3 separate regions of the Homo sapiens genome follow, and all the other regions are linked to region 1. The links come from fine-mapping of genetic effects on gene expression. A gene starts in region 1. Each other region holds a variant in brackets. All regions are shown on one strand. Distances are from middle to middle. Region 1 holds the start of SLAMF8 (SLAM family member 8). Region 2 overlaps FCRL6 (Fc receptor like 6). Region 3 overlaps ATP1A4 (ATPase Na+/K+ transporting subunit alpha 4).

Region 1 (2,760 bases):
CATTCTTCCCACCCAGCCCTAAAGGATTCCTGTCTGCTGTCCCTTGTCCTCTGTGGAGCCTACTTGGTATTTTCCCACAGCCACATCCCTGCACGCTCTGCTCTCCCCTCCTGCCCAGAGCCCACCCCCAACCTCTGGCTCTCTCCTTTCCTCATATTATCTAAACCATGCCCATCTTCAAGGCACAGCTCAAATTCCACCTTCTCAAGAAGCGTCCCCTGCCCAGATCCGCGAAGCCCTCTTTCCCACCCACTTCTGAGGACTGACTACCTGTTTGCACAAAGTGGTGTCTGTCTGCAGATAACCCTTCACTTTCCTTGGTGTACCTATCTCTACATTTTGGTTGTGAGTACCTGGAGGGCAAAAACCTTATCCCAAAATCCTCCTGCTCACCACCCACCCCCACCCCATCCTATATGCCTAGTTCCTGGCTGAGTCCAAAGCTCAGTGTCCAGTTTGATTGACAGGCGAGAGGCTGTGCAGGACCAGATACGATGAGCCACACTCCAGACTAGCAGGAATTTTCCTCAGGGGCAACACGTCCTCTAAAAACCTTCACTGGCAAGAAACCAAGAAACTTGAAGTGAGAAGAGAAACAGGATGAGGAGGGGATAACTGTGGCAAAATAGACCACACTTCAAAGGCTGAGGTTCAAGTTCCAGCTCTGCCTCTCTGTGAGCTCTGCAAGGGGCCTAACCTCACTCTGGTTTTCACATTTTCCCATTTCTAACCAGGTAACAAGATGATCCTCTCAGAGGAGAGTTGCAAGGCTTACATAAAGCCAGATGTGTAGCCATGTCTAGAATGTACTCACTCACTTAACAAATACTCATGAAACATCTGTAATGTGCCAAGCACTGAGGGCAACACAGAAGGGAACAAAAGACTGGCTAAACAGTCTGTGAAAACCAGAAAACTGTCATCAACAACACAGCAAGAGTAAAGAGGGAGGTGTGGGCATGCACAGGACACAAGGAGAGGGCCTCTCACCTGCCTGTGGTCAGGAAGCCTGGAAGGATGTCCTCGCCGACTGCACAGCCATGTTCTGTTTGCAAGGATAGAGGGAGCAGCATGCCTAGTCGGGGTGGTGGGGAAAGTACAACACAGGGAAGTGTGAAATCAGTAGTTCTGAGAAGGAGGCCTTCTGGCTTGGGATGGCTGGAGGGCAGAATGACTGTGGGCGACCAGCCTGGAGAAGAAGGCCTGACTCAGGAGGGCCTGCATGCAGAGCAGAGTTAGTCCTCATCCTCAGGTCCACGGGAGGCCACAGAAGCATTTTAAGCTAGAATGAGGATGACAGATAGTAGTGAGGCAGGCTGAGATGCAGGAAGGCCAGCGAGATCCAGCAAGGAGGATGTGGCTTGTGTGGGGGCTGTTGTCGCCACGTGTTAGCCAACCATGTGCATGTGAAAGAGGCTGACTTACAAGAATCTGCTCCTGTAAGCCCAGAGAGGCCCAGGGACAACTTCCACTTTATTCTGGATGTTTTCACTTTTGGGACATCCTGTTCTGAGTCAAGATTCCTCCTTCTGAACATGGGACTTTCCAGAAGGACCACAGCTCCTCCCGTGCATCCACTCGGCCTGGGAGGTTCTGGATTTTGGCTGTCGAGGGAGTTTGCCTGCCTCTCCAGAGAAAGATGGTCATGAGGCCCCTGTGGAGTCTGCTTCTCTGGGAAGGTAAGTGGGGCAGGCAGATAGCCTGTCCTCGGAGAGCTGAAGGCCCCTCCCCAGCTGCCTATGCCAGACGTCTGGGCAGGGATCCCTCGACCTGGGTGAGAACCCAGAAGCTGAGGGTGGGTAGGAAAGACTAGAACAAGCTCTTGGGCAACATTTTAAGCTAGGCAGATACAAAGAGATGCAGGGTCCTGGGAGGGAGGAGGTGGCAGCTTGAGGGGTATTCTTATCTGTGAGACATGAGCTGTTTTGTGGCCCAGAGCAGTAAAAACGGAGCCAGTGGGTGATACTGCTGGTTTGGAGAGAAAGTCGGCTGTGAGAATGGTGAGGACCCGGCAGTGTTAGCATGCAGAAACTCTGCAGAGTTTGAGGAGAGTAGCAGAGGGCAGGGCAGAGCAGGGTTCCCCACAATCAGCAGAGTGTGTTTTCAACAGCCTGTGGGGGAGCTGAGGTCCCTCCCTACAGGCCTTTATAAGGGGAGGCAAGTACTAAGTAGGGATGAGAGAGGCTAAATGTGGCCCACGTGGACTTAGGGGTGGCCGACGGTGGTGTGATGTTGGGATGGCTGATACACGGGGTCTCCTCCACACCGGGCGATCCCTCTATCCATCTGATGCCTGAGTTCCCTTCCTTGGTCAACAAGCAGCCAACATGACATGGGTCAACACTGCCGGGCCATGGATGAGGGTTTATGGGGTGCAGCAAAGATTAAGATGATATTGTTTACATCAGAGGCTCATAGGGACTTTGGGTTGCTTTGTTTCATCTCCTTGCCTGAGTTCCTGGCCCTGAGAGCTCCAAAGCCTGCAGATTTCTTCAATATTTCTAAACATGTGCAGGAAATCACACCTTAACCTCAAAAAAGGCCTTGGTCTGTTTGGTGAGACAAAAATAATTTGCCTTTTTTTTTTTTCTTTGAGACGGAGTCTTGCTCTGTCACCCAGGCTGGAATGCAATGGTGCATCTCAGCTCACTGTAACCTCTGCCTCCTGGGTTCAAGCGATTCTCCTGTCTCAGCCTCCTGAGTAGCTGGGATTACAGGTCACTGCCACTAAACCCGGCTAATGTTTGTATTTTTAGTAGA
Region 2 (2,760 bases), 23 kb before region 1:
CATCCCTGAGACACCAAGTTCCTCATCTTACCTTTCCCAATTCCAGTGGGTTTGTGGCTGGAGCTCAAGACAGGTGTGTGCACCTGGGCATGCTTGGGAGAGATGGGCACTGGGGTAGGAGAAACTCCTCAGTGTTTCCTACCCCGTAGTCCTGGGTCCTTGGCAGCGCAGCCCTTTGATATGTCAGAGATAAATTAGGGAGGCAGAAAATCACATTACAAAGTCCCCTAACTTCCCAATGACATTTCTACCTTGTGACATCAGGTTAAAATACTAATCAGAGCTGTCTCAAAAGGAAATGGAGGTTGCAGGAGGGAAGGAGGCTGCTGGGGGCAACAGGGAAGGAGTCAGGGAAATGAGGGGAAACAGTCCCAGGCATTTTGCTCAGCAATGGGAGGTGGAATTTTACAGGGTGACATATTTTTATGGAGCCTCAGCATTTTCTTAGAACCAGGTAACAATGGCCAGACCTCTCACCTGGTTGAAAGGCCTGTGCTCTGAGTAACCAAAGCCCTTTTCAAATTGACTGTCTCTCTTCCGCCTACATCTTCTCTCTGTTGGGAGCTGTTTCAGATCCATGGGGCTGGTTTGAAGAATCAACTCCATTGTCTGATCCATGTCTCTCTCTCTCTTCTCTCCATTTCTTCTCATGCAGGCTACTTGTAACTAAGAGAGCTGGTCTAAGGGTAGAGGATTGCACGCAGAGGGTCACTGGGCTCCCCCAGACCCAGCTCAGTCTCAGCCAGTGTCACCCCCCTTATACCTAAAAGAAATAATTTGGCATATATTTTGTTTCACTTTACAGTTTCCAAGTGGACCTACTTTTTGTTTAATTCTTGGTCCCAATAGCTTGCTTGCTATTTGTATTCCTTGAACTAGAAAAGCAAAACTGTTCCTAAATATAACCTCTTCCTGGACAGAGTTTGTGAGAATTTGACCCTGTGAGGAAAATGCCCCTTCCACTCAATGTTCCTTCTCCAGCATAGCATGCTACTCGTGTGTTCTATGAATGGCCATTTGGACAAATGAAAAGGTCTAATGCTCACACTGAGGCGGGGACAGGATAGCCTAATGCCTGGATATACTCCAGGCAGAAGACTCCCAGGGGCAAATGGCACTACCGGCACTACCTTGTAAAAGGAACAGCCCTTGGACTTGTCTAGATACAGTCTGAGAGTGTTCCAGCTTGGAACCCAGGACGAGGATGACAGACAGCAAATGAGGAGAGGAAGGGAATCAGTGACCGGCTGACTGGTGCACAGTGTAATGGAGAATCCAGCACCAGCAAATTTGGTCCCACTTGATGCTCAGGGACCCTGGAAAAACAGCCTAAAACACAGACACTGGGGCTGGGTGTGTAGCAACATTTATCTTACCATAAGTGTAGAGCTGCTATTTCCTCTCTCAAGAGCAGGGTGTGGTCATAATAAATTGGTGGCTATTACTATTATTGGCTGTCAGGGCTCCGGGAGGAAAGGAATCCTGACATTGAGCATGTGGGGACCTGGCTGAATGTGAAATATGTATTTAAAGTTTGGGAAATTAGGCTTAATTTTCTTCTGAGCTGAACATTAGCCAACTTCCC[T/C]CCTACCACTGGAGGCTGCTCCCCGCATTCTCACACAGCGTCCATAGGAGGTGTCATGGGGTCCCATACAGCCCTCCCAGCAATGTGACTGCTGCAGCTTGGCACTGCAGCCTGTTCCACAGTGCTAGAGCTCAGTGGTGAGAGAGTTCTTCATGTTGAGCCGAAATCTGCCTCCATGATCCCTCTAGTTTCCATTTCTGTCCTATAAAGTAACTCAGAATAAGTCTCCCCCTTCTTTTAAGCTTAGCCCACCAAGTATTTTGTGTCTTTCCTCTGTTGCATCTTTCCCAGATAAATATCTCCCGATCCCTCAGAAACTTTAAGAGGAAATTATCCTGCTCCTAGAGTTGGCAGGGGCTCCTGCCTTCATTTTTCGGAATTCTATTACGCAACTTGGTTTGACCATAGCTCTTGGCCACTTCATGATACTGTCACCTCATCTTCAGCCTATAGCTAATGGAGGTCCCTGGGCCCTCATTGCAGGAACTGCTGTAAGCAGGTGTCACCCCCTGTGTATGTTCCCAGTTGGCTGCTGTTTTGATTGCAGAAACCAATTTTGTAATCCCACCTCCAAGATCTTGCAGTACCATGGGGAGCAAGTCATTGAGATTTGGGGACAGGAGCTCATTTTAAGTGCATCTATGCTTCCTGAGTGCCTTCTGTCTTGTTTTTGGCTTCAGTAGTCTCAACCCTGTTTGTTTAGCACTTTGTAGCTGCACAATTGTTTTCCAGTGAGGTGGGGAAGGGAAGGAAGACATAACTACAGAGTAAGGTCTCTGTCACTCTGAGGTCAGGCCTTCTTTCTGCTTTCAGTTAATGTAGTAACCACTTTCCCAGGCAGTGGGTCAACATAACCTTCACAACTACACTGTAAGAAAAAAATGACTATTATCATTTCTATTATGTGATATGACAGAATGAGATATTGAAGGCTCTTGGAACTTAGACAACTTGTTCAAGGTCGTACAGAAAGAGGCAAATTCATGACTCAAGTCCAGGTCATCTGATTCCAAATCCTGCATGCTTTCCACTACACCGAGCTCATAGATGGGGGTTAGGGGTGGAGATGGAGGGATGATAAAGAAGAGACTCATTGTTCTGCACACTCTTGAGAGCATATGACTGAGCTGACCCTGAGCTGAATAGAGAATTGAGCTGAAAGATTCCACCTGTGT
Region 3 (2,760 bases), 340 kb after region 1:
CTGGAAACCCTAAGTTCATCTAAATGATGAGAAGAAAGAGAAAGAAACTAATTTTCAAGTGCCTATGATGTACCTAACCTTCTAGACTCTTAAAAATATTCAGTCCTCACAGTTTAGTAAGTGCTTTCATTCCATTTCGAAGATGAGGAAGCCTGACTCTCAGCATTTAAGTAACTTGCCCCAAGGAAAAGAGCTAGTAATTTAGAAAGCTGAACTTCCGGCCCTGAGTCTTTCTGCTTTTAAAATAAATGCAGTTTCAGTGATATGTTGCCTAAGTGATTCTGACTCTGATTTCAATGGTAGAAATTTCAGTCATTATGGTAAAGCAGGAAGAATTACTTTAAGAAAAGAATTTTGTCATGCCCCTCATTTCAAGGTGAGTGGCCTGCATCATGTGTGTGTAAAGCCAAACATGATGTCCAAGCTGCCCTTCTGACTGGGGCAGTGCTGGTGGAGAGGAAAGAGGGACCTCATAAGCACAGAAGCCCAGCTGTTATGGCCCGTGCTACCCAGCAGAGGTCAGATTGGCTCCAGCCAGCAAAGCAGGGAGGGGGCGCAAGTTACAGCAGGATTTCTCAACCACTCACATTTGGGGCTGGATAATTCTTTGTTGTGCGGGACAGGAGAGCTGTCTTGTGCGTGGCAGGATGTTTAACAGCATCCTGGCCTCTACCCACTGCATGCCAGTAGGAGCCTTCTCCCACCCCAGTAGTGACCACCAAAAATGTCTCCAAGCATTGCCAAATGTCCCCAGGGAAGGGGGTTGGTGGGTAGGGATTGCCTCCAGTTGAGAACCACTGTGTTAGGGGATAAGGGGATGTTGGAACATAGGGCTCTACCAGAAGGGTAACCACTATTCCTGGGATCTAGAAACTCCTCAGCTGCTGAGGGCAAGATAAGAACTATATAGGCAATAGAAGATACTCAGATTAAGTATAATAAAGGCCTTCTTGACAGTGAAGGAAATTAGGCAATAAAATTGGGTATTTCAGGAGAACTGTGAGACCTCTTCAGAGATTTTTCAGACTAGAAGACCTTTATTTGTATAAACTAAATATGAGGAGAGCAGAACATAATGACCTCTCAGAGGGCCTTGAGTCTCCAGTTTGTTTTTGACCATTGACAGCTTGCTCTTTGTGGGAACCAAACCAAACAGCTTC[C/T]TCAATTCAGACTCGGCATGTCTTGGGTGACCATCTCTGATGGAAAAAACAAGAAACAGCTTTTTTTTTTCTCTACACTCACGCTGAACACAGAACACTTCTGTGTCCAACATGTGTAGACAGTTCTCCCCACCAACAACCAGTTCTCCAAAGGACAATGATTGGGTGTCCTATAATTCAATTCAACTCTGACACAATCCACCTGGAGATAGCATCAGATCCCACAGGTTAGGGCTCAGCCCCACAAGACAGTCCCTAACTCTAGACCCCAGTCACAAGTCCTAGGTTATGGCCTGGCTATAAATTGGGGTTCCCACGACTCCCTCCTCAGGTTTGATTAATTTGCTAGGATGGCTCACAGAACTCAGGGAAACACCTTACTTAGGTTTACCCATTATTATAAAGGATATTACAAGGATACAGATGAGCAGTCATATGGAAGAGACGCACAGGACAAGGCACGTGGGAAGGAGCATGGAGGAGCGTCTGTGCCCTCTCCTGTCCAGGGTGCCCTCCAGTAACCCTCCACATGGTCATACACATAGACACTTTCCAAACCCAGTCCTTTGAGGTTTTTAATGGAGATTTCATTACATAGGTATAATCGGTTACATTATTAGCCATTGGTGATCAACTCAACCTTCATCCCTCCTCCCTTCCAAAGAGGTCAGTCCATGAACTGCAAGTTCCAACTCTCTAATCACATGGTTATCTGCCCTGGCCACCAGCCCCATCCTGTGGCTATCCAGGAACCCACCAAGAGTCACCTCATTAGAACAAAGATACTCCTATCACCCAGGAAACTCCAAGGCATTTAAGAGTTCTGTGTCAGACACTCCTATCACTCAAGAAATTACAAGGGTCTCAGGAGCTCTGTGTCCAGAACTGGGTCAAAGACCAAATATTAGAACAAAAGATTCTCCTAGCACCCCTATCTTTAAGGGTTTTTAGAAGCTCTATGTCAGGAAGTGGGGGCAGAGACCAATATCTATACTTCTTATCATATCACAACATCACATTGCCCTCTCCTGCTTCATCCACAGGAACCGCCCGGGGTATTGTGATTGCTACGGGAGACTCCACAGTGATGGGCAGAATTGCCTCCCTGACGTCAGGCCTGGCGGTTGGCCAGACACCTATCGCTGCTGAGATCGAACACTTCATCCATCTGATCACTGTGGTGGCCGTCTTCCTTGGTGTCACTTTTTTTGCGCTCTCACTTCTCTTGGGCTATGGTTGGCTGGAGGCTATCATTTTTCTCATTGGCATCATTGTGGCCAATGTGCCTGAGGGGCTGTTGGCCACAGTCACTGTGAGTAGACAGGGTGGAAAATGGCCTCAGGGCAGACAAACCACCCCAGGGAAAAGGGATCACTAGCGTCTCTTTTGTTGTTGAACCTTTCAAGTGCAGGGTCTTCCTGATATGTAAATAGGTATCAGGAATAATTTAGCTCTCAATATTACACTGACTCCTTCTGCCCATATATTTCGGTGTCTTCTCTTTCCTCAATGAGAGAGGAAGCAAGTTTCAATGGAAAGTGCATTGGATTATCAGTCACTGAGAGTGAGTTCTAGTATTGGCTAAATCACTTAACATCTC

What was found. PIP is the estimated chance that this variant, and not a neighbour inherited with it, causes the effect.
Region 2: its variant is fine-mapped to the expression of SLAMF8 in whole blood (INTERVAL, PIP 0.94).
Region 3: its variant is fine-mapped to the expression of SLAMF8 in macrophages (Nedelec 2016, PIP 0.90).

The regions. Positions count from the first base shown.
Region 1 is chr1:159,825,260-159,828,019 of GRCh38, forward strand. SLAMF8 (SLAM family member 8) reads left to right here and starts at 1,614. Exons shown (of 5, transcript NM_020125.3): 1 at 1,614-1,679. The coding sequence starts at 1,640.
Region 2 is chr1:159,802,507-159,805,266 of GRCh38, forward strand. The region is part of intron 1 of FCRL6 (Fc receptor like 6); the gene reads left to right. It overlaps LOC105371464 (a long non-coding RNA gene), which reads right to left. Exons shown (of 3, transcript XR_922195.2): 1 at 32-2,760. Among named protein-coding and RNA genes, the nearest start is that of FCRL6, 1.5 kb to the left of the region's middle. The variant T/C (reference allele first, on the strand shown) is at 1,586.
Region 3 is chr1:160,161,953-160,164,712 of GRCh38, forward strand. It overlaps ATP1A4 (ATPase Na+/K+ transporting subunit alpha 4), which reads left to right. Exons shown (of 22, transcript NM_144699.4): 7 at 2,204-2,472. Among named protein-coding and RNA genes, the nearest start is that of ATP1A4, 12 kb to the left of the region's middle. RefSeq lists an enhancer at 467-556. The variant C/T (reference allele first, on the strand shown) is at 1,161.